Regions from separate parts of the Homo sapiens genome. Here region 1 is linked to region 2. The links come from fine-mapping of genetic effects on gene expression. A gene starts in region 2. The other region holds a variant in brackets. All regions are shown on one strand. Distances are from middle to middle. Region 1 overlaps RC3H2 (ring finger and CCCH-type domains 2). Region 2 holds the start of ZBTB6 (zinc finger and BTB domain containing 6).

What was found.
Region 1: its variant is fine-mapped to the expression of ZBTB6 in whole blood (INTERVAL, PIP 0.93).

The regions. Positions count from the first base shown.
Region 1 is chr9:122,868,023-122,880,803 of GRCh38, forward strand. It overlaps RC3H2 (ring finger and CCCH-type domains 2), which reads right to left. Exons shown (of 21, transcript NM_001100588.3): 6 at 12,572-12,772; 7 at 11,971-12,103; 8 at 11,733-11,851; 9 at 9,449-9,561. It overlaps SNORD90 (small nucleolar RNA, C/D box 90), which reads right to left and starts at 12,297; the gene lies at 12,191-12,297. The variant CAG/C (reference allele first, on the strand shown) is at 6,518.
Region 2 is chr9:122,905,670-122,918,450 of GRCh38, forward strand. It overlaps ZBTB6 (zinc finger and BTB domain containing 6), which reads right to left and starts at 7,654. Exons shown (of 2, transcript NM_006626.6): 1 at 7,582-7,654; 2 at 2,387-6,412. The coding sequence starts at 6,403. The coding sequence ends at 5,129. It overlaps ZBTB26 (zinc finger and BTB domain containing 26), which reads right to left. Exons shown (of 2, transcript NM_020924.4): 2 at 9,897-12,781. RefSeq lists enhancers at 7,369-7,478, 7,489-7,718, 9,187-9,944.

The sequences.
Region 1 (12,781 bases), 38 kb before region 2:
TGAGAAGCCCCTCTGCCCAGCCAGCCGCTCCGTCCGGGAGGGAGGTTGGGGGGTCAGCACCCCGCCCGGCCAGCCACCCCGTCCAGGAGGGAGGTGGGGGTGTCAGCCCCCCGCCCGGCCAGCCGCCCTGTCGGGGATGTGAGGGGCGCCTCTGCCCGGCCGCCCCTACTGGGAAGTGAGGAGCCCCTCTGCCCGGCCACCACCCCGTCTGGGAGGTGTACCCAACAGCTCATTGAGAACGGGCCATGATGACAATTGCGGTTTTGTGGAATAGAAAGGGGGCAAAGGTGGGGAAAAGATTGAGAAATCGGATGGTTGCCGTGTCTGTGTGGAAAGAAGTAGACATGGGAGACTTTTCATTTTGTTCTGTACTAAGAAAAATTCTTCTGCCTTGGGATCCTGTTGATCTGTGACCTTACCCCCAACCCTGTGCTCTCTGAAACATGTGCTGTGTCCACTCAGGGTTAAATGGATTAAGGGCGGTGCAAGATGTGCTTTGTTAAACAGATGCTTGAAGGCAGCATGCTCGTTAAGAGTCATCACCACTCCCTAATCTCAAGTACCCAGGGACACAAACGCTGCGGAAGGCCGCAGGGTCCTCTGCCTAGGAAAACCAGAGACCTCTGTTCACTTGTTTATCTGCTGACCTTCCCTCCACTATTGTCCTATGACCCTGCCAAATCCCCCTCTGTGAGAAACACCCAAGAATGATCAATAAAAAATAAATAAATAAATAAATAAATAAAAAGAAAATGTGTTTCTATGTATACACCAAAATTTCATTATAATATAATCCTTAACAATATTCCCTCCTATATGTGTGTGTGTGTGTGTGTGTGTGTGTGTGTGTGTGTGTGTGTGTGTGTGTATGTGTTTTTTTTTTTTTTTTTTGTGGGGGGGTTAAGTTCCACTCTTGTCGCCCAGGTTACAGTGCAATGGCGCGATCTCGGCTCACTGCAACCTCCGCCTCCTGGGTTCAAGTGATTCTTCTGCCTCAGCCTCCCAAGTAGCTGGGATTACAGGCACGTGCCTGCCACCACGCCTGGTTAACTTTTGTATTTTTAGTAGAGATGGGGTTTTGCCATGTTGGCCAGGCTGGTCTCAAAATCCTGACCTCAGGTGATCTGCCCACTTCGGCCTCCCAAAGTGCTGGGATTACGGGTGTGAGCCACCATGCCTGGCCCCTACAACATTTTTAAAGCGGTGAAAAATTAAGTTCACGAACAGAAAGAAGACTATACATATTTGGTGTCATAATTATATATGCCTAAAGTAATGTTATTAATGTTATATATAAACATATGGTAATTAAATATAAAGTGTTAGTAGTAAGCAATGCCTTCACAATAGTTTCCCTTTTAGTCCTCTGGTATCTATAAACAACTTCATTATTCAGTCCTTCTCTTCTCCTTCTCTTTAACATGTACACATTGGCAGAGGAAGGTGATGCTCAATAAAAGACAAGTGCTCCTAGATTAGACTGGCTAAAAGTGAAGTAACAGAATATTAAAAAAACAGGTGATGGCCAGTTTACACGATTTTTTTTTTTTTTTTTTTTTGAGGCGGAGTTTTGCTCGTCACCCAGGCTGGAGTGCAATAGTGTGATCTCAGCTCACTGCAACCTCTGCTTCCCGGGTTCAAGCAATTCTCCTGCCTCAGCCTCTGGAGTACAGGTGCACATTATAGGCGCGCGCCTGCCAACACACCTGGCTAATTTTTGTATTTTTAGTAGAGATGGGGTTTCATCATGTTGGCCAAGCTGTTCTCAAACTCCTGACCTCAAGTGATCCGCCTGCCTTGGCCTCCCAAAGTGCTGGGATTATAGGCATAAGCCACTGTGCCTGGCCAACATCATCTTATAGATAAGAGGAAAACCAATAATTACTTCTTTCAAGAAGGGCATGAGCAGACCTATATTTCAGGAAGACAATCTGGTTGTCTGGAGGGGCCCAAAGATCCCTATGCCTTCCTCCACATTCTCTCTGAAACCTACTCTCATTATTCTTTTCCTCAGAGTTCCTATACAGAATATCGTGTCTCCTTGCTTTCCATCCTCAAAAAATAAAACTTGGCCGGGCATGGTGGCTCACACCTGTAATCCCAGCACCTTGGGAGGCTGAGGCGAGTGGATTACCTGAGGTCAGGAGTTCAAGACCAGCCTGGCCAACATGGTGAAACCCCGTCTCTATTAAAAATACAAAAATTAGCCAGAAGTGGTGGGACATGCCTGTAATCCCAGCTACTTGGGAGGCTGAAGCAGGAGAATTGCTTGAGCCTGGGAGACAGAGGTTGCAGTGAGCCGAGATTGTGCCACTGTACTCCAGCCTGGCCGACAGAGCAAGACTCTGTCTCCAAAAACAAACAAACAAACAAACAAACAAACAAACAAACAAAAAAAAAACAACAAACTGAGATAATCCACAAGGTTGCTCTAGAAAGCAAAAAATAAAGTTTTAACTATGAACCTCTCAAAAAAGAGTCAGGAGAAATAAAATCTTAACCAAGTGAGGTAAAGCAAGTGACAAGTAGGGATATACACTGAATTCTTAGTATTGGGGCAGCTAAAGGCTGCCTTTTCAGGGACAGGATCTCACTATGTTGCCTAGACTGCCTTAAATCCTAAATGCAAGTGATCCTCCCAGCTCTGCCTCCAGAGTAGCTGGGACTACAGGTGTGCACCACCATGCGTAACTCTCCCTATTCTTTTTAAATCCCTTCTTACCCATCTTAGAATCCACTATCTACCATTAATCCCTCCCTTGTAAATAATTTTTAACTCCCTTGATCCACTCCCTCTGTATCTCATTTGGTAAAAGCTCAATCCAATTCTTTACTTATTTTGTGCCTGCTACCAAGCAGCTAAATGTTGGAGAAAAATTGTGCAATCACGCTGTCTATAATCCCTTCAAAATTATAAATAATTCATTAATACGCTTCTTTACTAAGTTCATTTTCCCATCTCCAATAGCCTTTTCCCTTCCACTTTCAACCACCCCTCCTACAGCTAGATGATATTGTTTCCCACTTAACCACGAAAATAGATGAAAGCAGAGGAGAATAATTTATCTTTCCGCTACCAATTCCAGTAACCTTCCTGCACCTGTAGCCACATTCCTCTTAAAGATAAGGGACAATGAGTTCCTGTTCCTGACTAAAGCCAGTCTCACCACCTGTGGCCTAGGTCTCAAGCCCATTTGCCTTCCTCTAAGACTTCACTGAGGTAATTATCTTTTTTTCTCGTGGGCACCTTCTTTGACTACCTGCTCAAATGTTGTATCTTCTTTTTTTTTTTTGAGACGGAGTCTCGCTCTGTTGCCCAGGCTGGAGTGCAGTGGCGCAATCTCAGCTCACTGCAAGCTCCACCTCCCAGGTTCACGCCATTCTCCAGCCTCAGCCTCCCGAGGAGCTGGTACTACAGTTGCCCACCACCAGGCCCGGCTAATTTTTTCTGTTTTTAGTAGAGACGGGGTTTCACCGTGTTAGTGGGGGGGGGGGTTTCATCGTGTTAGCCAGGATAGTCCCGATCTCCTGACCTTGTGATCCGCCTGCCTCGGCCTCCCAAAGTGCTGGGATTACAGGCGTGAGCCACTGCGCCTGGCCAAATGTTGTATCTTCTAAGAGTCTTTCCTACACTATTCTATCTAAGAGATCTCCCCTTTCTCAATCACTCTTTTTCTCCTTTGTGTTTTTTTTTCATACTGCCTGTCATTACAAGATATTATGCTATATTTATTTATTTCATGTCTGTCTTCTTACTACAATGTAAGCCCCCGGAGGACAAGACTTTTGCCTTTCTTGCATCTCTCTATCTTTAGCACACAATACACTGTCTCATAACATCCCAAGTGCCCAATTATTATTATTATTTTAAAGGCAGAGTCTCCATCACCCAGGCAGGAGTGAGTCACCATGCCCAGCCAATTTTTTTTTTTTGTAGTAGAGACAAGGTCTTGCTATGTTGCCCAGGCTGGTCACAAACTCCTGAGCTCAAGTGATCTTCTTGCCTCAGCCTTTCAAAGTATTGGAATTACAGGCGTGAGCCACCTCACCCGGCCCCCAATTATTATTTGTTGCATTAATATAGAATAAGCTTCAAACATCATTATGGCCAAGAGAACCACTGATTTTCTGCCCTGATGCATTTCCCATTTCAGCAAGAGACCACTAAGTTATGCAGGCTCCATACCTTGGAGTCATCCTTGATTCCTCTCTTTTCTTTATAGCCCACATTCAATTGGTCCATGTTGTCAGCTCTACTTCCAAAATATATCCTAAGTATGACTACTTTTCATCATTTCCATTGCTATAGTCCTACCCGAGCTACCAAACTCCCACCTGTGGACCAATATAGAAGTTTAACTTGTCTCCATCCATGCAGACACCAGAGTGATATGTCTAAGACAAAATGAAAATTTCATCATTCCATTTAAATAAAACTCTAAAATGACTTCTTATTGCAAACAGAATAAAATCCAAATTCTTTGCTATGGCCAAAATTGCTTATTTACATGTTTACTGTTCCTCTTTTTCCATTAGAAACATCTTGAATAGTAACCAGTATATAATAATCTTTTATAACTTTTTTTTTTGAGACAAAGTCTCACTCTATCACCCAGGTTGGAGTGCAGTGGTGCTCACTGCAACCTCTACCTCCCAGGTTCACGCGATTCTCGTGCCTCAGCCTCCCCAGTAGCTGGGATTACAGGCGTGCACCACCATGCCCGGCTAATTTTTGTATTGTTAGTAGAGACAGAGTTTCCCCCATGCTGGCCAGGCTGGTCTCAAACTCCTGACCTCAAGTGATACACCAGCCTTGGCCTCCCAAAGTGCTGGGATTACAGGCATGAGCCACTGCTCCTGGCCACTATTTGTTGAGTTGGTTGATCCCTCGCTTTTGACACTCCCCAGAATGTAGCAATTCTTTGGAACATAACCCCAACATCCTAGTTCTAAAACATATCCACATATTTACATAATATTTATTCTACATATTTATTTTATGTTTACATATAATAAATATGTATTCTAAGAAGGGATTATTGAGCATCCACATTTTGTTTGGTTAGAGGGGTGTATAATAGAGAAAGAAAATATAGGTAAAATTAATTTATTTAAGTTGAACAAACATTTGCTGAATTTCTGGTGTTATGTGAACTAAGACAAACAGCCTATCCTCAAAAAGCTCAGAGTGAGGTAGCAATATGTATTTTTTAAACTGAAAGGACAGTCACATCACCTACTTTTCTAATCCTTTGTATTATCCCTGTTTGTTTAAACAGCAATAGAGTGTGAAGCTGGTTGGAAATAAGAAGTAAGAACTGTATATTATTTGCTCCTCCACATAAACATACTGAGTTTATGTTATCAGGTGTTTTCTAGATGCAGGAAATATAAAGATGAAGAACCCTTGCCAGGTGCCATGGCTCATGCCTGTAATCCTAGCACTTTGGGAGGCTGAGGTGGGCAGATTGAGCTCAGGAGTTCGAGACCAGCCTGGGCAACATGGTGAATCCCCATCTCTACAAAAAATATAAAAAAAATTTAGCCAGGCATGGTGGCGTGTGTCTGTGGTCCCAGCTACTCGAGAGGCTGAGGTGGGAGAATCCCCTGAGCCTGGGAGGCAGAAGTTGCAAGTGAGCCAAGATCATACCACTGCACTATAGAGTGAGGCCCTGTCTCCAGAAAAAAAAAAGATTAATAACCCATGAGATAAATGAAGTCCAGTGAAAACACACATGTAAATAAACAATTATAATACTGTAGTTTTATAACTATACCATAATTTTTATTTATTTATTTATATTTATTTTTTTGAGACGGAATCTTGCTCTGTCGTCCACACAGGAGTATAGTGGCGCCATCTCGGCTCACTGCAACCTCTGCCTCCCAAGTTCAAGCCATTCTCCCGCCTCAGCCTCCCGAGCAGCTGGGATTACAGGTGCTTGCCACCACACCCAGCTAACTATACCATAATTTTTAAACTACTATGTATGGAGTGCTATGGCAGCATGGTGAAGGATGCAATTAACACTGCCTAGGGAAGTCTGTGGAGGGAAGATAATATCTGAGTATGATTAGAAATAGTTATCCAGATAAAGAGGAGAGAGAAAATAATACAATATGGAATAAACAATATAGACAAGTGAAAAGAAGAGTAAAAGAAATTTATATAGTAATCAACAGTGATTAATTGAATATACCTTAAAAACAAAGTATACAAATGGCAGAGTAGAGCTAGAGGATAAAATCAGGATGAGATTCTGTGATGTACTGAGGAACTAATTAAGAATTTAAAGGAGACACACATATTTTAAAAAGAAAATAGTGGAAATGGAAAAGACAGATTGAGATATAGGAAGATACTGGATAAAAAGCCACTGAAGCAGTAAAACCAACTGGATTACCATGTGAAACACTAAAAATGTGACCAATAATTTTGCCATTATTATTATTTTTGAATGAGTGATATTTTATATATTTATTATTTTATTATTTTTATTTATTTATATTTTTGAGA[CAG/C]AGTCTTGCTCTGCTGCCCGGGTTGGAATACAGTGGTATAATCTCAGTTCACGGCAGACCTGACCTCCCGAGTTCAAGCAATCCTCCCACCTCAGCCTCCTGAGTAGCTAAGATGACAGGCGTATGCCACTATGCTCAGCCAATTTTGTTTATTTTTTTGTAGAGGTGAGGTCTCACTATGTTGCCCAGGCTGGTCTCAAACTCCTGGACTCAAGGTATCCTCCTGCCTTTGCCTCCCAAACTGCTGGGAATACAGGCATGAGCCACTACACCTAGTTTGGCTATTATTATTTTTACTGCTACTATTACAAGTCTGGCAAAATATAATAAAGTTCTGAACTAGGTACTGCAGATGAAGAATGTGAAGTCTGTTTGAAGGTATGAGAAAGAAGAAAATGGATTTTCAGCCTGGGCACTAATTGAGGGTGGAATGGCAATGAAACCACAGTTTCTTCTCTGACTTTTTTAGTCGAACTTTCTCAAAAGCTCCCCTTTTAGCTAAAAAGCTCTATTTCAGGTATGGACAAGCTGAATGTATTTCCTGGAGTCTCCCAAATTATCTTGATGTGAAATTCTGTATATAGAACTAGTTCGATTGGGTACAAACAGCATCTTTTTTCCTTAGGACTCCTTAATCCTCTTCTCTAGGCACTTCAAGTGGGGAAAAAAACTGAGAAGAGAAGCATGTTTCTGCTCTTTTCACTGCACACACACTTATCTTCTCTCTATCACAATGCTGCTGCTTGTAGAGCTCATTATGTACAGTGCCCAAGCTAGCCACTGAGGAAAGGAGACAACAATGAAGATATAGTCCACGGGGGTTACACTTATGTAAGATAGACAAACATTTAATAAACAGATCATGGGCCATAGTTTCTGTAAAGGGTTTTTATAAATAAAGTTTACAGCCATGCCCAATTTATGCATTGTCTGTGGCTGTTTTTTTGCTACAGTGGCACTGCTGAGTGGTTGTAACAGATTCTGTGGCCCACAAAGCCAAAAATGTTTGCTAGCTGGACTTCATAAAGAAGTTTGTCAAGCTCTAAAACAGGCCACTAATTAATTTTATGTGATAAGTGTTTGAAAGAGGAAGCTGGTTAGTATGAAGTGTCAGGGGAATTACCCTGAAAAAGCGAAGGATGAGCTAGACAAAGGAAAGGTCTCAAAGGCAAGGCTAGGAGTAACAGCATTATGTAAAAGACCTGAGGTGGGAAAGAGCACAGTGCATACCACAAACTGAGAGAAGGTCAGTGTGGCTTGAGTACAATTAGTGTTGTGTAATGAGATCAGAAAGGCAGACACAGATTAGATGATGCAGGGTCTTAGAGGCCACAACATAGATTTTATTTCTTAATCTACAGGACAATGAGAGGCTATCAAAGGCTTAGGTGAAGAAGGGTGGTATGAGTAAATCTGTGCTTTTAAAATATTTCTGTTTTAAGGGAAATAATGGGAGAAGGGGTGGACAGCGAGAGATTTAAGACTAGTGAGAAGGCAACAAGGGATCGAGAAAAGGAGATGACAGCTTGGATCACAAGGATGGAAAGAAGAATAAAGAACTGAGAAATATATAGGAAGATGAATTGGCAGAACTTTTTGACTGATTAAGCAGAAAAAGCTAAGGAAGGACAGCTGACAAATATGATTATTATAACACAGCATATATAACAGGCTGGATGGCTAAACTGGGTACACGAGGTGAGTACAATGGAAGGCAGGAGGAGGAGGTATGGGAGAAAATTAGCTCAGTTTGTTTAAAGTATCTAAAAACAAAATGAATATGCCCACAAAGAGTTGATAGACAGGGCAGGTGTGGTGGCTCACGTCTGTAATCCCAGTACTTTGGGAGGCCAAGGCAGGCAGATCGCTTGAGGTCAGGAGTTTGAGACCCGCCTGGTGAACATGGTGAAACCCTGTCTCTACTAAAAATACAAAAATTGGCCAGGCATGGTGGTGGGCGCCTGTGGTTCCAGCTACTCGGGAGGCTGAGGCAGGAGTATCGTTTGAACAGGGGAGGCAGAGGTTGCAGTGAGCCAAGATCATGCCACTGCACTCCACCCTGGGCGACAGAGCAAGACTCCACCTCAAAAAAAAAAAAAAAGTTGATACACTGGCCAGCAGAAAGTAGAAAAGCTGGGATCAATTTTTTGGTGAGGTCTCAAAAATGAAAGTCTTAGTTAAAAAACAAAACAACAAAAATTGGATAATAGTATTAAACCTTACATACATTAACTTTTAGGTCTCGGGTAAAGGGACATAGAAAAAGGGGTTAACCATAGGAGAAGAGAAAGAATACACAGGGAAAAAGAATGTTAAAAAGACCAAAAGCCGTAAAAAGGATATATATCTGCTTTACCATTTTGCCTGAGACTTTGCTGCTAGGTTTAACTGAATCTGAGCAAATAAGACTGCAAGTATTTTCATTCTGCACAGGTGCTCAGTATAAATATGGATTCCAGCTATAAAATGGTCTCAAAATATGACCACTGAGTAAAGTTCTAAATCACTTATGTAAATCTTGTACCCAGATCTTATATGTTTTGTTGTGAGGCAGAGTCTTGCTGTGTCCCTCAGGCTGGAGTGCAGTGGTGTGAACACACTCACTGCAGCCTTGACCTATGGGGTTCAAGCAATCCTTCCACTTCAGTCTTTTGAGCAGCTGGGACCACAACTGTGGGCCACACAGCTAATTTTTAAATTTTTTGTAGAGACGGGGGTCTCCTTATCTTGCCCAGGCTGGTCTCAAACTCCTGAGCACAAGCAATCCTCCTGCCTCAGCCCCGCAAACTGCTGGGACTACAGGCATGAGCTATGGTGCCCAGCCCTTAACTTGCATTTTTGAAAGTCATCACAAACTTCAGGACTGTATATAACATTCCCATAAAAATCAAAAATTAAACCCATATGAAACAGAATTCTCAACACTTACTTTTCAAGCTCTTCCTGAGAATGGGCAAATGTACAATTTGTTCCTCGTGGACAACCCCCTTGCTGTCGCAAATCTCGGCACATGCTAGTCTTGTATTTGCTGTTTGGCTGAGGCTACAAAAATGGGAACACATTCAATGAGTGGCAAGGTGAAGATTCCATTTGTTATTCACTCTAGGAAGTTCAGAACTTTATAATTACACCTTTAATTCTTTTTCACATTAGACAAGTAATTCTTGTGCTGAAACAACTAATATTCCATTGTTTCCTGTTGTGAGTTATGTGACATAACCCTGAATTGGCACTTCAGATATTCCTTCTGAAGATTATTCGAAACTGGTTCAAATGTTATGTCCATTTATTCATTAGTTAACAGAATGCCCAGAAAAAGAAAATATTTTTTCATCAATTTATTGCTGTCTTAAAATTCTGCTACCAAAATCAAACAATTTTAAAAAGCATTAAAAAAAAACCAAAAGCTTTGTCTACTTAAACTTTCTCAGAAAAGGTAGAATACAATTCCACCTAGAAGTGAAAAATTACCAATTCACTTGTCAGCTTGAGGGTGCAACTCTCAGGCTTAAACTATTTGAGTTCATACAATGAGGCAGAATATTAAAATTTCACTATTACTTCTACAATTTGCATCAAAATCTAAGACATTCTTATTCTTATGAGCCTAGGATGAAAACATTTGTTTTTAATATTTTAAGTTATAATATCTTCTAAGAATAAGGAGAGAAGAGTACAAAGTGTAGGTTTGATCCCAGCTCTTACTGACAGCACAACCTTTTTTATTTTTTATTTTTATCTTTGAGACGGAGTCTTGCTCTGTTGCCCAGGCTGGAGTGCAGTGGCGCCATCTCAGCTCACTGCAAGCTCCACTTCCCGGGTTCAGGCCATTCTCCCTGCCTCAGAGAGCTCCCAAGTAGCTGGGACTACAGGCGCCTGCCACCACGCCCGGCTAATTTTTTGTATTTTTAGTAGAGATGGGGCTTCACCATGTTAGCCAGGATGGTCTCGATCTCCTGACCTTGTGATCCGCCCGCCTCAGCCTCCCAAAGTGCTGGGATTATAGACATGAGCCACCGCGCCCAGCCCCCTGACAGCACAATCTTATGTTATTTAACCTCTTTGAATTTCAGCTTGGAAACAGCAACTACATTGCAGGTGGCTGTGAGGATAAGAAATAATACATGTAAAACATTGAATGTAGTGAATGGCTCATAATAATTTATTAAATAGAAGTTATAAGTATAAAGGATTATATCTTAACTTCTTTTTATTTTATATTTTTGGAGACAAGAGTCACTCTGTCGCCCAGGCTGGAGTGCAGTGGCGCGATCTCGGCTCACTGTAGCCTCCATCTCCCGGGTTCAAGCGATTCTCCTGACTCAGCCGTCTCAGTAGTTGGGATTACAGGCATCCACCACAATGCCTGGCTCATTTTTGTATTTTTTTTTTTTTAGTAGAGATGGGGTTTCACCATGTTGGCCAAGCTGGTCTCGAACTTCTGGCCTCAAGTGATCCACTCACCTCAACCTCCCAAAGTGCTGGGATTACAGGCGTGAGCCACTGTGCCTGGCCAGGTTTATATCTTAACTTCTAAAGTACACTGAAAAGTATCTTGAAAATTCAAATTTCGGCCAGGCACGATGGCTCACGCCTGTAATCCCAGCACTTTGGGAGGCCGAGGTGGGCAGATCACCTGAGGTCAGGAGTTTGAGACCAGCCTGGCCAACATGGTAAAACCCTCTCTACAAAAAATACAAAAATTAGCAGGGCGTGGTGGCACTTGCCTGTAATCCCAGTTACTTGGGAGGCTGAGGCAGGAGAATCACCTGAACTCAGGAGGCAGAGGTTGCAGTGAGCTGAGATAGCGTCACTGCACTCCAGCCTGGGTGACAGAGTGAGACTTTGTCTAAAAAAAAAAGAAAGAAAATTCAAATTCCATAAATTTACATATAGAAATTCAATACAGAAAAAAAATGACAATTTCCCACAGTAGAAAAGAATGAGACAAAACGTTTGGAATCAATTATCTACATTTGGTCAAAAATATTCTGCAATAAAGTATACTCACACCCAAGATACCCTCTAAACTCTTGGTGTGCTATGAAATGTTTACCAAGTACACTAAAAACTGGGTTCCTCCCAAAAGAATAGAGATGATAGAAACTTATGAGTCACATACGGAGTCCAATTAACAAAACAGCTGGTTAAGATGTTCAGGATGAAACTGAGTTAGAGACAACAGCAGTCAGAAATGTAATAAATGTACTTACCTGAGGGGTCTCATGGCCTTTTCTACTATAATTTTGTATGAAGTCCACAAGGCCATGAACTACTGTTTTAACAGCTACCATTGCATTTTCCAGCTGCTCCCAAGTTGGTGAAACAGCGTCTAAAATAAGCCACCAAGGGCATGGGGGTTGGGGGGGAAGAATGTTAGCAGTAATTCTCTTGTGTTATTCACCTCAAAAGTAGAAAAAAATATAAGCAACTGAGCATATTCCCACATACCTGGATTAGGGTCTATGTTTGCAAGAAGCTCTAAATGAGGCCTCAGTCTATTTAAGTTAGCTGGGTCACCTGTTCGTTGCAAAACAATTGTCAATTCCTGGACACTCTTTGCAAATGACTCTGGAGACTGTAGCTAACAAACAGAAATGAGAATGCTTTTTACTTTGGTTCTTATGACACATTTATACTCAAATACTTTCAATTTATCAACATATTTAATACGTTTTCAAGTGTCTTCAGATTCCACAGTAGGAGTATCAGTGATGAATTAAATTTTCACCTCAGAATCTGCCCTATGAAATTCATCATTAGACACTTAGAAAACTTATAAGCTGTATTAACTCTCTGAGGTCAGAATATAGATAAATTTGAGACTTTGTAAGCCTCACTGCTTTTATGCTAGTATCATGTATTTGTTTCCCTGTTGCATCCCTTTATTTTGCAAGTAGAAAAATAAAAAGAAAATAAGGATAATTTATAAGAGTCTGACATTTAAAAACATAGGAATCTCCAACTGTTTGTGTATAGACTCTTTAGAATATTCTAATACTCTTCAATGTAACAGCAATGATAGAACATCAGCATCTCTAATTTCACAAACCTTATCAATGATAGACTGCATGTGTGATTTATGAGCCAAATCACCATACAAAAGAGAGGACCACTGTTCAGGTGAAATACGGAGTCCTGCTTCCATGGCAATATGAACAATTTGGGCATCATGTTCTCTGCGTAATGCTTCATAACTCCGAAATTCCTCCTTCAGCTGCATTAGGGAAGAGTCTTCATCTCTTTTGGTAACCTAAAAAAT
Region 2 (12,781 bases):
AATCCATTGAGCAGAATCTGATACATCTGTGTCACATTCTTCTTCACACTCCTGTGATGACATGCCGACAGGATCCCTCAATCCCTTTACAAAGATGTCAAGTAATCTCCCCATTACAAAAACAAGAAGAAAACATGTATTTGGCAGGCACTTCCACATCTCACTTCTTTATTAAAGAGAAAACTCTGTTTCTAGACAAAGAGTCCAAAGTGGGGGGGGGAGGGGGGGAAGAAAGCTCTGAGCTCCTCAAAAGCTGGCAAAAATAAAAAATTTAAGCACAAATTCTGGCATCATATCTCAAATATTTGTTGAAGCTTTTTACACAGCGAACTAAGGTAAGAATTATTCTTACAGTTTATAATTTATAGATGAAACAGACTTGGAATAGGGATATCAGAATTAACATTTATAAACTACTTAGTATGTGTCAGGCAGGTCCTGTGTTAGGTGATATTTAATTTTAAATATTTTAGTTTTATTTACATTTCATTTAATTAGCAAAGTGATCCTAGAAGACAGATACAATGTACCCCTTGTTACTGATGAGAAACTAAAGAATGTAGGCTAGAAAATGACCATGACGCCGGGCGCGGTGGCTGATGCCTGTAATACCAGCACTTTGGGAGGCCGAAGCGGGTGGACCGCCAGGTCAGAAGTTAGAGACCAGTCTGGCCAACATAGTGAAACCCTGGCTCTACTAAAAATACAAAAATTAGCCGGGTGTGGTGGCGGGCACCTGTAATCCCAGCTACTCGGGGGGCTGAGGCAGGAGAATCACTTGAACCCGGGAGACGGAGGTTGCAGTGAGCCGAGACCGCGCCATTGCACTACAGCCAGGCGGGGGGGCAGTGCCAGACTCCGTCTCAACAAAAAAAAGAAGAAAAAAAATGACCATGACTTGTAATTAAACTCAAGGCACTTTCCAATGTGAAATCAGATGCCCAACAACAAAAATATCGAAGTAAACCTACGATAAATTAGAATATGGAAAGGTTGCTTCTACAGTTTTAACAAAATATATAGTTATTACCTATTATATTTGTCTGAATGACAGGCAAAAATCAGTGTTTTTGAAAAAAGATTCATTGGCCACATCGAAGACGTTTCTTCCACACATTATCTTTTTCGTTCTCTTCTCTTTATGAAACATATGCCAGGCCTAGAGAACTGTTAACAACCAATAATTGTTTCAGTAATTTCAACTGGACAGTGATAGGTAATTTACATGTACATATTTGTTTTCCACCCTACTGTGTATATATATATATACACACATATATACATATATGCACATATATACATATATACATACATATAAATATATATACACATATATAGATACATATAAGTATATATACACATATAAACATACACATTATATATACATATATGTACATATTTTTTTTTTTGAGACGGAGTCTCACTCTGTCACACAGGCTGGAGTGCAATGGTGTGATCTCAGCTCACTGCAACCTCCACCTCCTGGGTTCAAGGAATTCTCCTGCCTTAGCCTCCCCAGTAGCTGGAATTACAGGCACCCGTCATCATGCCCGGCTAAATTTCTTTTTTGTATTTTTGTAGAGACGGGTTTTCACCATGTTGGCCAGGCTGGTCTTGAACTCCTGACCTCAGAAGACCCGCCTGCCTCGGCCTCCAAAAGTGCTGGGATTGCAGGCGTGAGCCACCAGTCCAGGCCAAATTTTTCTATTCTACTGGATATATTTACATTTCACTAGACAGAAGAATATATATTTCTGATAATCCGAGATTTTTCAAAGGTGTCCTGGTCACCATATTTATTTTTGAGATGGGGTCTTGCTCCCTCAGTTAGGCTGACTGCAGCGGTGCGATATTGGCTTACTGCAACCTCTGCCTCCCAGGTTCAACGGATTCTCCTGTCTCAGACTCCCGAGTAGCTGGGATTACAGGCAAGCGCTACCATGCCCGGCTAATTTTTGTATTTTTAGTGAAGGGTTTTCATCAGGTTGGCCAGGCTTGTCTCAAACTCCTGACCTCAAGTGATCTGCCAGCCTCGGCCTCCCTAAGTGTTAGGATTACAGGCCTGAGCCTCGGCGCCCGGCGCTGACCACCATATTTAAAATTGCAATTCCATCCCCCTTCTCTGGTACTCCCTATTCCTGATTTTTCTCCAAATTCCTTCTCAAAATTTGACATACATGGATTTTACTTACTTGTTTACTGTTTGTCTCCCTTCACTAAGATGTTTCACAAGAGCAGGAATTTTTGTCTGTATACCTAACTTATATTTCATTGTAAGGACTCAGGAAGTATTTGCTAGATGAATGATTAATGTATAGTCAGGAGAAATTGTATCCTTTAAATTGTATCCTTTAAAATTCAAAGATGAAGACAAAACACATTGTTCTCCATTCCCACCTCCAGTTTATTATTTCTTATGTAAACATGTAAGATAGTTACATCCCAGGAAAAAGGGCAAGTGTTTTTCTCTGACAACGAAGTAACAACTACCTTTTCAAGATCTTTTATATGTAAATGGAGTAAATGAAGAGGCTGAACTCAAACACTTTTCATTTTTCTGTCATATCAGAAACATAAACTAAATGTGAATATGTTAAATGAATAAATTCTATACTTTGTCATACCTGAACTTTAAAAAAAGATTCCATTTTCCTGAAAATTTTTAGACATATCATGCAAACAGACACTCTCCTAGGAATGTTTGGAGATCATTCCGTGCTACTGAACAGGAATAAATAATATAAATAATAACCATCACTTTCACAAAACACCCCTCCCCCAGCAAAAATCTCAAAGTGCTCACAAAAAATTTTACAACAATCTTACAAGGCACACATAAAACTTAAACATAGTTTCAACCAATTTTTTTTCAAATATCCAAGATAGTAGATACTAATTCTTAAAAAATCAGAGTACTATTCTTTTACCCTCTCCTCCCATCTCCATCCTTCCCCCTTCCCCCCACGCCATTTTATAATAGGAAGCAAAAATAAGAAAAGTACTTCAATCACTAGTAAACTATTTCTGAAAAGAAAATATTTTCACACCAACAAATGGCCAATCTTAGGTCAAATGGAAGCAATGAACTATGAATGAAAAATTAGCAATGAGCTATCACACTTTCCAGTGGAAAAAGATCCACTAATTAGAAAAATTATGTCTCCAATGGAGTACTTAAGTAACAAAGTTCATAAAGACACAAAACCGTCCTCTCTTGCTTTCCCCTCTTCTGTTCTCAGGAAGAATTAAATACAAAATCATGGAATTTTAGACCTGGAAATGATCTTTCAAATGACCAAGATCAAAGTTATTTTACATATAAAGTTAAAAAGTTCAAGGAGAAATTCAGCACAATGTCGCTAACTAGTAACATTGGGTTATGAAGTCGGTTTTTTCATCAAACGAGACCTGCATTCTTGAAAGTCTCAAGGAAAGTTAAAATTCAGTGGAGAATGTCTTTCCCACAAAATTGTCAAAAAAAGGTTAACACTTATAACAACGAACATGTGATTCATTCATCACACAATTTTTATAAATGGTACAAAGTATATTACATTTTAAAATACAGAAGGGCTTCAATAGAAATTAAATACAGTAGAAATTCTACATAAAGCTAAGTTAACTAGAGGAGGACTAGAACAGCTTCAAAGAAAGATGCATCTAGTCAGTCTTCTTTACGAAAAGCAGTTCCTGTGTTTTAGAGAATATTATTTGCCCTGCAGTATATTTTAATCTTTGTTAAAATAATTTATAAAAGTTTTGTGTTATATGTAGACGGAGATGTTAGAGAACTATGGCTCAGAACACCATCTCAAATATGACTCTCGCTAAAATAATCATACAGTCATAGTTTTCCTTTTGGCATATTTTTGGAAATATAAAACTCTAGGGATGGTTAAGATTTTTATCAACACATAGTGAATGGAAATTACATTAATGTAAATGAAAAAATACAACACTAATAGCTACACCTTTTTAAATTGCTCATCTAGTAACAGCTAGAATATATATTGCCAATTCAAAATTTAAAATGACATGGATGAACCTCAAAGTCATTATGCTGGGTGAAAAAGCATTTCAAGAGGGAACGTACTATAAGATTCTGTTTATATGACAGTCCAGAAAAGGCAAAATAATAGTGACGGAGAACTGTTGCCAGGATTAGAGCTAGAAGGAGCTGACTACAAAGGGACAGCATAAGAGAGCTATTGGGAGTGAAGGAACTGTTCTGTACCGACTGCAGTAGTGGTGCACAAATCTTTCTGTTAAAATTCACAGAACTATACACCAAGAAGAAATTTCAATTTTACTTCATGTTAAATAAAAAATAAAATAGAGAGGAACTTTTAAAACAGTAGAACAGATATCCCTGGTAAAGGTAGAATTTCTCATTTTTCACAGCTTCATGCCAATGGTATAATTTTACTGGCCACAAAATTATTAAATCCGATTGTATTAAATAAAATCAAGAAACTCGGGCCCAATGAACCATTTCTTAAGTATGTATACTAATAAGGCATGGAAATAAAAGTATTTTAAGGATTATTAACCCTGTATAAAAAAATTCTGCTATTCCCAAGTGAATCTGAATTGTTACTTTATACATTTTAAAATGAAAAGTATCTTGGTGTTTAGTTTGGAATCCAAGAACAGCTGGTAAAAAGTTAAAAAAAAATTTTTTTAGTGCCATCTGTTCTAAAGTGACTAGAAACAGGTAATAGTGTTTTTACCTTTATTTTCTCTTCTTGTTATCCTAATTCATTAAAGTTTTTATATGATTGGATTTTATACTTAAATCAATTACCTAGAGACTCCAAATCGGAATCTGCAAATACTGCTGGATCCTTTGTCACTAGAATCAAGAATATATAAGAGAGGAACACTATTTCTCTAGGGATACTACTGAGACTTATATGTAAGGTATGAGATGAGACAGAATCCCATCAGCTTTACTGTGCCTCCCATAACTTTGGAACTGTTAGAAGTTCAGAAAGAATGATTATGTGTAAGCCGACAAAATATAAGAAACAAAGATTGGGGGGATGAAATATTACAAATGCTGCATCTCTACAGAAAGACTTGCGTAATAGAATAATACAAACTTTATATAACAAGTCTGTGATTATAATTATAGTAGACTTTGCCTTTTGAGATCAGGCCTAGATAGTTTTTCACCACTGCTTCTGCCATGGACAGAGGTTAAGTGCTTTTTGAGAGCAGACTTGTGCTTGAAATCCATATCACAACAGTGGCATTTGTATGGCCGATCCCCACTGTGTATGTTCAAGTGGTCCTGAAGTGTGCTTTTGGCAGTAAATGTCTTCAAGCACACAGTACACTGAAAGGGCCGTATGCCCATGTGTCCTCGGATGTGTCGGTTGAGATTTTTCTTCTGTGTAAATGTTTTTCCGCACTGTAAGCATAAGAATAGTTTATGCATTTTAAGGTGGCGCAGATAGTTTTCAACATGAAGAAAGCCTCGAGGACACCTGGGGCACTGGTGCCTCAGTGAATAACCTTCCTCCAGATTCTGAATCTCACTCACTGTACCATAACTTCCTTCAGTATTCTCACAAAATAAGCCCTGATCTTGATTCCCAGGAACTTCAGCCACTCTGCTCTCAACTGTAGAATTGATCAATGAATGCTGTGTTTCAGAGAAATACATGCTTGCTTTTGAAGAGGTACAAGGCTGTGAAAACTGCCCATTTTCGACACCAGCTGTACTGATGGATTCTACATGAAGGATACAAATTTCATTGTCTTTAAAACCTATGTCTACTGTAGACAGCTCTGGTGACTTCATTTCCTTTCTCTCTGATGTCAGACTCTCTACTGTAGACTGCAAAGCATTGCTTTCCTCTTCTTTAACATGGAAATCTATGTTTACAGGACTATCTTCTGAAATTTCAATTATCTCACAGTCTTTATCAGAATTTTCATCTTCATTCTTAACATCAGGATCAGAAGACTGACACAGGTCAGTGTGTTGGTTGTTGTTTTTCATAGAAAGATCAATTTCCAGATACTTTGACAAAGCTTCTGTGCACTTTTCCACAATGTGAACCATCTGAAGGTAACTGGCAGCAGTCAAGTATTTCAAAAGCTCTTTCCTTTTAACTTCAAGTGCTCCAGTATAGCAAGACAGTAACAATTTTCTGCCAACTTCTGCACTCTGTAAGATGGTGATTCTGACATGTTTTGACTGTGTGAGTAAAAACTGATCTCTCATAAAAGTGGAGCAAGCAGCCAAAATCACCTTGTGCCCCTGGAACTCAGTGTCATTAATGTAAATTGATACATCACAAAATAAATTCTGCTGTCTCAAAAGATTCATTTTCTGCAAGACCACATCTCCTTGCTGTTCAAACTGGAAATGCAGAACATCAGACTCAGCAGCCATGATCACAATCTAAGCAAAATAAAACACAAACATTGATGTAATAAGGATAGGGAATGCTTTCCCATGCTGTAATGGTGAAAACAAACGAAAAACCCCAAACCTGAATTAGGAAGAAGAAGACTCAAAGTCTAATGTAGGTGTTATGAACCTTTATGCCACCATCTCAAAACGAGAACTTTATAATGCACTTCTCTATGATCTCATAGCACATTTTTCATAACTTTGTTACAACATTCATTACAATGAATTGTAGTGAACAGTTTCTAGCTTGTTTCTTTTGCTAAATGTTGTGTGCCTTGTGGTCAAGAACAATCTATCAATTTTGAATATCCAATATAAGCACTGTGACCACCAAAAAGTTGATTTAACATAATATATCCAATTAGCAACTTTAACGTAATCTCCAAACTTCCTACTCCCCACCACTACAACAGGTCCTCCTTCCGGTTCACCTGGACAACTGCAATGTCTTCCAACAGGTCTTCTTTATACCACACTCTTCTGTATGCCAGATTACCCGCCTGAGTGCCACCAGGATTAACAACCCTTATTTTATTTTATTTTTAATTTCCCTTTTCTGCTTTAAATCTTCTATCGTTCTTCTCTACCTCCGGGACAGTCCAGATTTCTTAGGAAAGAATACGAGACCCATCACGATTTGGCTCTAACCCATCTTTATGGCTTTATCACCTTCTATTCTCTTTTTCATACTCGAACCTCGTTCAATACTAAATTTTTCCATCATTACCCAGACAAAAAGACACGAATACACATTTCTTACATTCGCGTTTCCAGTTCCTTTTTTCAGCTAGTGATTAGGCTCCTTTAAGCCCAAATCAAGTAAAACTAATATGACTCCACCTCCCGTTTCAACCAGAGAGAGTCAGCTGCTCTCTGAGCACCGCGAGATGGTGCCTGATGCATCTGTGTTCCTGCACCGAGCTCAGGGGCCCACACAGAGCAGGAGGAGCTCAGGGAACATCTGCTGAACTGAAACCGGATGCCAGGTTCAGCACACAGGTATTCTGGAGGCAACCCTGCGAAGGGCCAAGGCCCTGTCGGCCCAGTGGTTGCAGCACAAGATTAGCCACTCCGGGGCCGAGCCCAGCTGTCCTCCTCCTCCTCCTCCTCTTCCTCAGGCACCCTCCACCTGAGGAATCTACTTTGCACTCACTCACCGACTCAGAAAACTAGAGTCAAGGATTCCGCGGCAGCGTCTGCCCAAGCCGGAAGATGGACTTAGCCTGGAAGAAAACACATCCGGTGCCAACCAGCTTTATTCTTTACTGGGGCCCTCTAGGCGCCCCGGAAGGACATTCTGAGACGGTCTTCCTTCCTCACTTCCCCCCTCTTGGAATGACAGAAAGGCTCCTGAATGCCGGCAAGCCCCATCTCTCTTGTCCCAGTTTCGGCACTCGAGCCGTTTTCCCCCACCATCCCTTTTTTTTTTTAAGACGGAGTTTCGCTCTTGTTGCCCAGGCTGGAGTGCAATGGCGCGATTTCGGCTCACTGCAACCTTCGCCTCCCGGGTTCAAGCGACTCTCGCTCCGCAGCCTCCCAAGTAGCTGAGATTACAGGCGCCCGCCACCACGCCCGGCTCATTTTTGTATTTTTAGTAGAGACGGGGTTTCACCATGTTGGCTAGGCTGGTATCGAACTCCTGACCTCAGGAGATCCGCCCGCCTCGGCCTCCCTAAATGCTGGGATTACCGGGTTGAGCCACCGCGCCCAGCCGAGCCATTTCCTTTTGTGAGTCCTCCTGAACATCCGAATTGGAGACGGGGTTTGAGGTTCGGTTACGGCACGTCTGTCAGAGTAACCAGACCTTTTATGGATTATTCTGGGACGATTCCTCTCCTTATTGGGGCCACCTACAACTTGAAAGGTGGCAGAGCAGAAACTATCATAAAGATCCGTATTCGAGATTGCCTAGATAATGCCCCATCAGGAGATGGCCCCAACCTCTGGATCTAGCTTCACACTTAAATGCGTTCCTCCATCCCAAAACTTTTGGCCCAGCTGTTTCCTCTGACGTGCCCTAGCCTTTTCCCCAGGCTTTTTTTTTTTTTTTTTGAGACGGAGTCTCTCTCTGTCGCCCAGGCTGGAGTGCAGCGGCAGGATCTCGGCTCACTGCAAGCTCCGCCTCCTGGGTTCACGCCATTCTCCTGCCTCAGCCTCCCGAGTAAGCTGGGACTTCAGGTGCCCGCCACTTCGCCTGGCTAATTTTTTTTTTTTTGTATTTTTAGTAGAGACGGGGTTTCACCGTGTTAGCCAGGATGGTCTCGATCTCCTGACCTCGTGATCCGCCCGCCTTGGCCTCCCAAAGTGCTGGGATTACAGGCGTGAGCCACCGAGCCCGGCCTTCCCCAACGTATCTTTAAAGAACCCGTTTATAAATCTCATCATCCTGAAGCCATCCTGAACTGCCCTAAGATAATTGGTTCCCAGTTTGAAACCTGTAATCCCTTTTCCTGCCTTCATTATTGCACTTAACACGCCTGTATTAATTTGTGCCTCATCTAGGCAGAGTTATTTAGGACAGTGGCTTACTGATCTTTGTATTCTCGAAGTCTAGCACTTGGTAGGCATCAAGTATTTGTGCTGAATGAAGATATGACTGAAGAAATTCTTTTTCTTTTTTTTTTGAGACAGAGTCTCACTCTGTGGTCCAGGCTGGAGTGCAGTGGCACGATCTCGGCCTACCGCAACCTCCGCCTAGCAGGTTCAAGCAATTCTCCTGCCTCAGCCTCCCGAGTAGCTGGGATTACAGGTGCCTGCCACCACACCCAGCTACTTTTTGTATTTTTGGTAGAGACGGGGTTTCACCATGTTGGCCAGGCCGGTCTCGAACTCCTGACCTCAGGTGATCCACCCGCCTTGGCCTCCCAAAGTGCTGGGATTACAGGCATGAGCCGCCGCGCCCGGCCTCTGCACCAATTCTATTCCTTTTTTTTTTTTTTTTTTTTTTTTTTTGAGACAAAGTCTCGCTCTGTCGCCCAGACTGGAGTGCAGTGGTGCGATCTTGGCTCACTGCAAGCTCCGCCTCTCGGGTTCACGCCATTCTCCTGCCTCAGCCTCCCGAGTAGCTGGGACTAATGCCCTGCCACCAGGCCCGGCTAATTTTTTGTATTTTTAGTAGAGACGGGGTTTCACCGTGTTAGCCAGGATGGTCTCGATCTCCTGACCTTGTGATCCACCCGCCTCGGCCTCCCAAAGTGCTGGGATTACAGGCGTGAGCCACCGCGCCCGGCCGCCTCTGAACCAATTCTTAAAGGCAGTTGCTCTGCTCCTCCAGCAACAGGTTCTCGTGGAAGTAAATGAATCTAGTAACAACTTTCTGATTAATTCGTATTTTTTTCTGAAGGCAAGCTCAGCATGCTTAATATGTATTTTTAAGACTATACATAAAGAAGACCTTCCTGTATTCAAAGTAAAGCAATTAAAAAAGAATAGAAGGAGGGGAGAGTGAGAAAATAACCAATGACACCAGAGCTTTAATCGTCACACTTTTATTAAGGAAACTTCCCCATAATAAGTGAAGAGGTAGTTCATAGTATGTCTAACATACAACAGATTTAGAACAGCTATTCATGAGCTGAAATAAAATCTTCTGGGTTGTTTAGGACAGTATTTTAGAAGCAGTGACATTGGTCACCTTCCATTTATAGATCTGCTAATAAAGAAACTTAAATTAAAATCATATCTGATTTACCTCAGAGCCACTTCAGTTTGGAGTTTAGTATTAAATAATAAATAAATAACTGACAGAGTAATTTTTTTTTAAACCAAACTATGGTAGAGAGTCATCTCCTTTTTAGTTCTCCTGGGGATCCATAAAATACAAATGCTGAATGATAAAGGTTTTAAAAATCTTCCTCCTCTACAGAAATATGACTAGTTTTGAAAGTCATCTTCCTCTGTAAAATACTGGATATCAGTAACTTGACTTCTTTGCAATATAATCTAACAAACACGTATAAGCAAAGAAGGAGGAAAGTGAAGTTCCACAAAAATTAGAAAAATGTCTCACAGAAACAGAACACCTCTCCAGCCAAAAATGGAGGAGACTGTAAATCACTTCAGTGGTTTGCATTTTCAAAAGGTGAGAACTAAATGTTTTACTGATACAAAAGCACAAAGTTGCTGATTTTAACTGATCGAATACAGCAAGGCAGCTTTCTTTATTATTTCTAGTATAAAAGCAAATTGAGACTTTGTTTCACTAAGACCACATGAGACTATAAGCTCCATGAGGGCAGGGACTATATCAATCTTACCTTCATTATCCTCAGTATCTAGCATAGTGTCTAGCAACAGTAGGTGCTTAACTAATGTTTCTTGAACAACTGAATGAACCCAGAAATAGTCTCCAACCAAAGAGACCAATCTTATTTGAACCCGTGCCTTTTAGTCTTCAAACCAGTAACAAAAACAAGACATGAATGTGAGCAAACGAAGCACTCCAACTTGAAATTTCCCTGTGAAGAAATGATGTTGACAGAAAATACCAAAAAATGCTGTTTGGTTGACAGGGTAGAGTCTCACTATTGCATAGAATTGGTACTCTTTGGCTGGATCATGTAAAAATCACAATGCTAGGAAGCATCATTAGACCATATAATGAGTGATGTTAGGCATAAGGTACCTATTAGTCTTACCACTCAACTGTATTATCATTTTAAATATTTGAACAAAAGACAAAAATCATACTTCACATCTGACTCACATGATGATAATTTACATATGATAACAATGATACATGTAAACGTATCAAATATAACAATTGAAGATCCCCTCTGACTATGCAAGCCTAATTTTTCAAATCTGCATGCACTCTCATAGCTCAAAAATAAAAACAGAAAATCCTGATGGAAACTAATAAACAGTTTTCCACACAAAATCAACTTCGCATTTAGATTCTTCTCACATTATTCTTGCTTTTTCCCTCCCTAAACAAACCTAGCAAATCACTCACTTGGATGGGAAGAATATAATATTCATCTAACTAAAAAATAATTAATATAAATCCCTCTGCGATATTTTGTTGGCAAAATTCAGGTTGTCTCAGAAAGCCAACAGGGAGACACAAAGGGGAAACACAAACTAGGAGCTTTTTGCTAATGCATTATTCTTCATGTACTAAATCTTTTAAAGCCAAGGGATAGCGAGAAGAAGGAAGAAGATGCTAGCTCATATTTAGTTATACCTTGGTCAATATTGGCCAGGCCACCTCTTCAGGCTTTGGATACCCCAATTTAAAATGAAAGAGGTGGAGTAAATGACCTCTTAAGATTCTCTAAGGACTCTACTAATACTATTACCTAAATCTAACTCATGGGTGAGAAACAAATAAGACTTAGAATTTTAGGTCTGAAGTACAACATGTGTTTTAGGAAAAAGAGCTGTTTTGTTTTTCCTTTTTGAAAATTAACTTTGTATTTGCAATCAAAGGCAGCAAGGTGGCACAGTGTACCTTTAAGAGGTATCTGAATACAGAAATTTGATTGCCCCTTCTGTGTCCAACCTAACTTTTATCATCCGTTTTAGAAATTAAGGTACATGAGGAAACGAAAATTCAGAGACTTTTATGGTGCACAGGACAAAACTCTGATGGCCAAACTCACCTTTCTGATGGCTAAACTCTGAAACAAAATTCAGAGACTCCCAAATAGCCTCTTTTTAGAGAGCCCACTATACTTTAGCACATTTTTAGCGTGCCTGGAGCAGTCCTGATCTCAAAAGCATCAACAAGTTACACATTAATTATAAGCATATGGCCTCTTATGGGACATGCTACCAGAGAAACCGCCCATGTAAGTGCTGTTGTATAAGTGTACTTCTATCCCTGTTGATTATGCTCCTCATGGTCATCCCTAACTATCTGCCTGCAGGTGTTCCTCAAGAGAGAGTACTCTGGTATATGTGAACAATTCAATGAGATGAAGTTGGGCTATGATACTGTTGAAAAGAGTACATAACAAACCAGCATACTTCTTTATAGCCAGCTCCAAGACAAGTACAAATGGTAGGAAGCAGATTCATTTATCAGACATGGAGGAATAATCAATAGGCAACCAGAAGTTCTATCACATTTTCAGGTCAATAGCAATATCACCTTATATCTCAGCCTATTTTCTACCAAAGAAAGATTATTCACTTCTCTTAGCATAGCATCTATTAGTGGAGAGTAGGTGACGTTATTAACTTGTTGGTACCTTCGGAATGTGCCTAGTGAAAAGCCTAAAACAGTGTCAGTCTAAGACATAAGTCAATGTTAGGTAGACAAAAGGAATTATTCCTTGGGAAAGGAAAACAGACTTTACAAGATAAATAACTCAAAACAGAAAATGGGAGAGGGCAAAAGTAAGGCAAATCCAC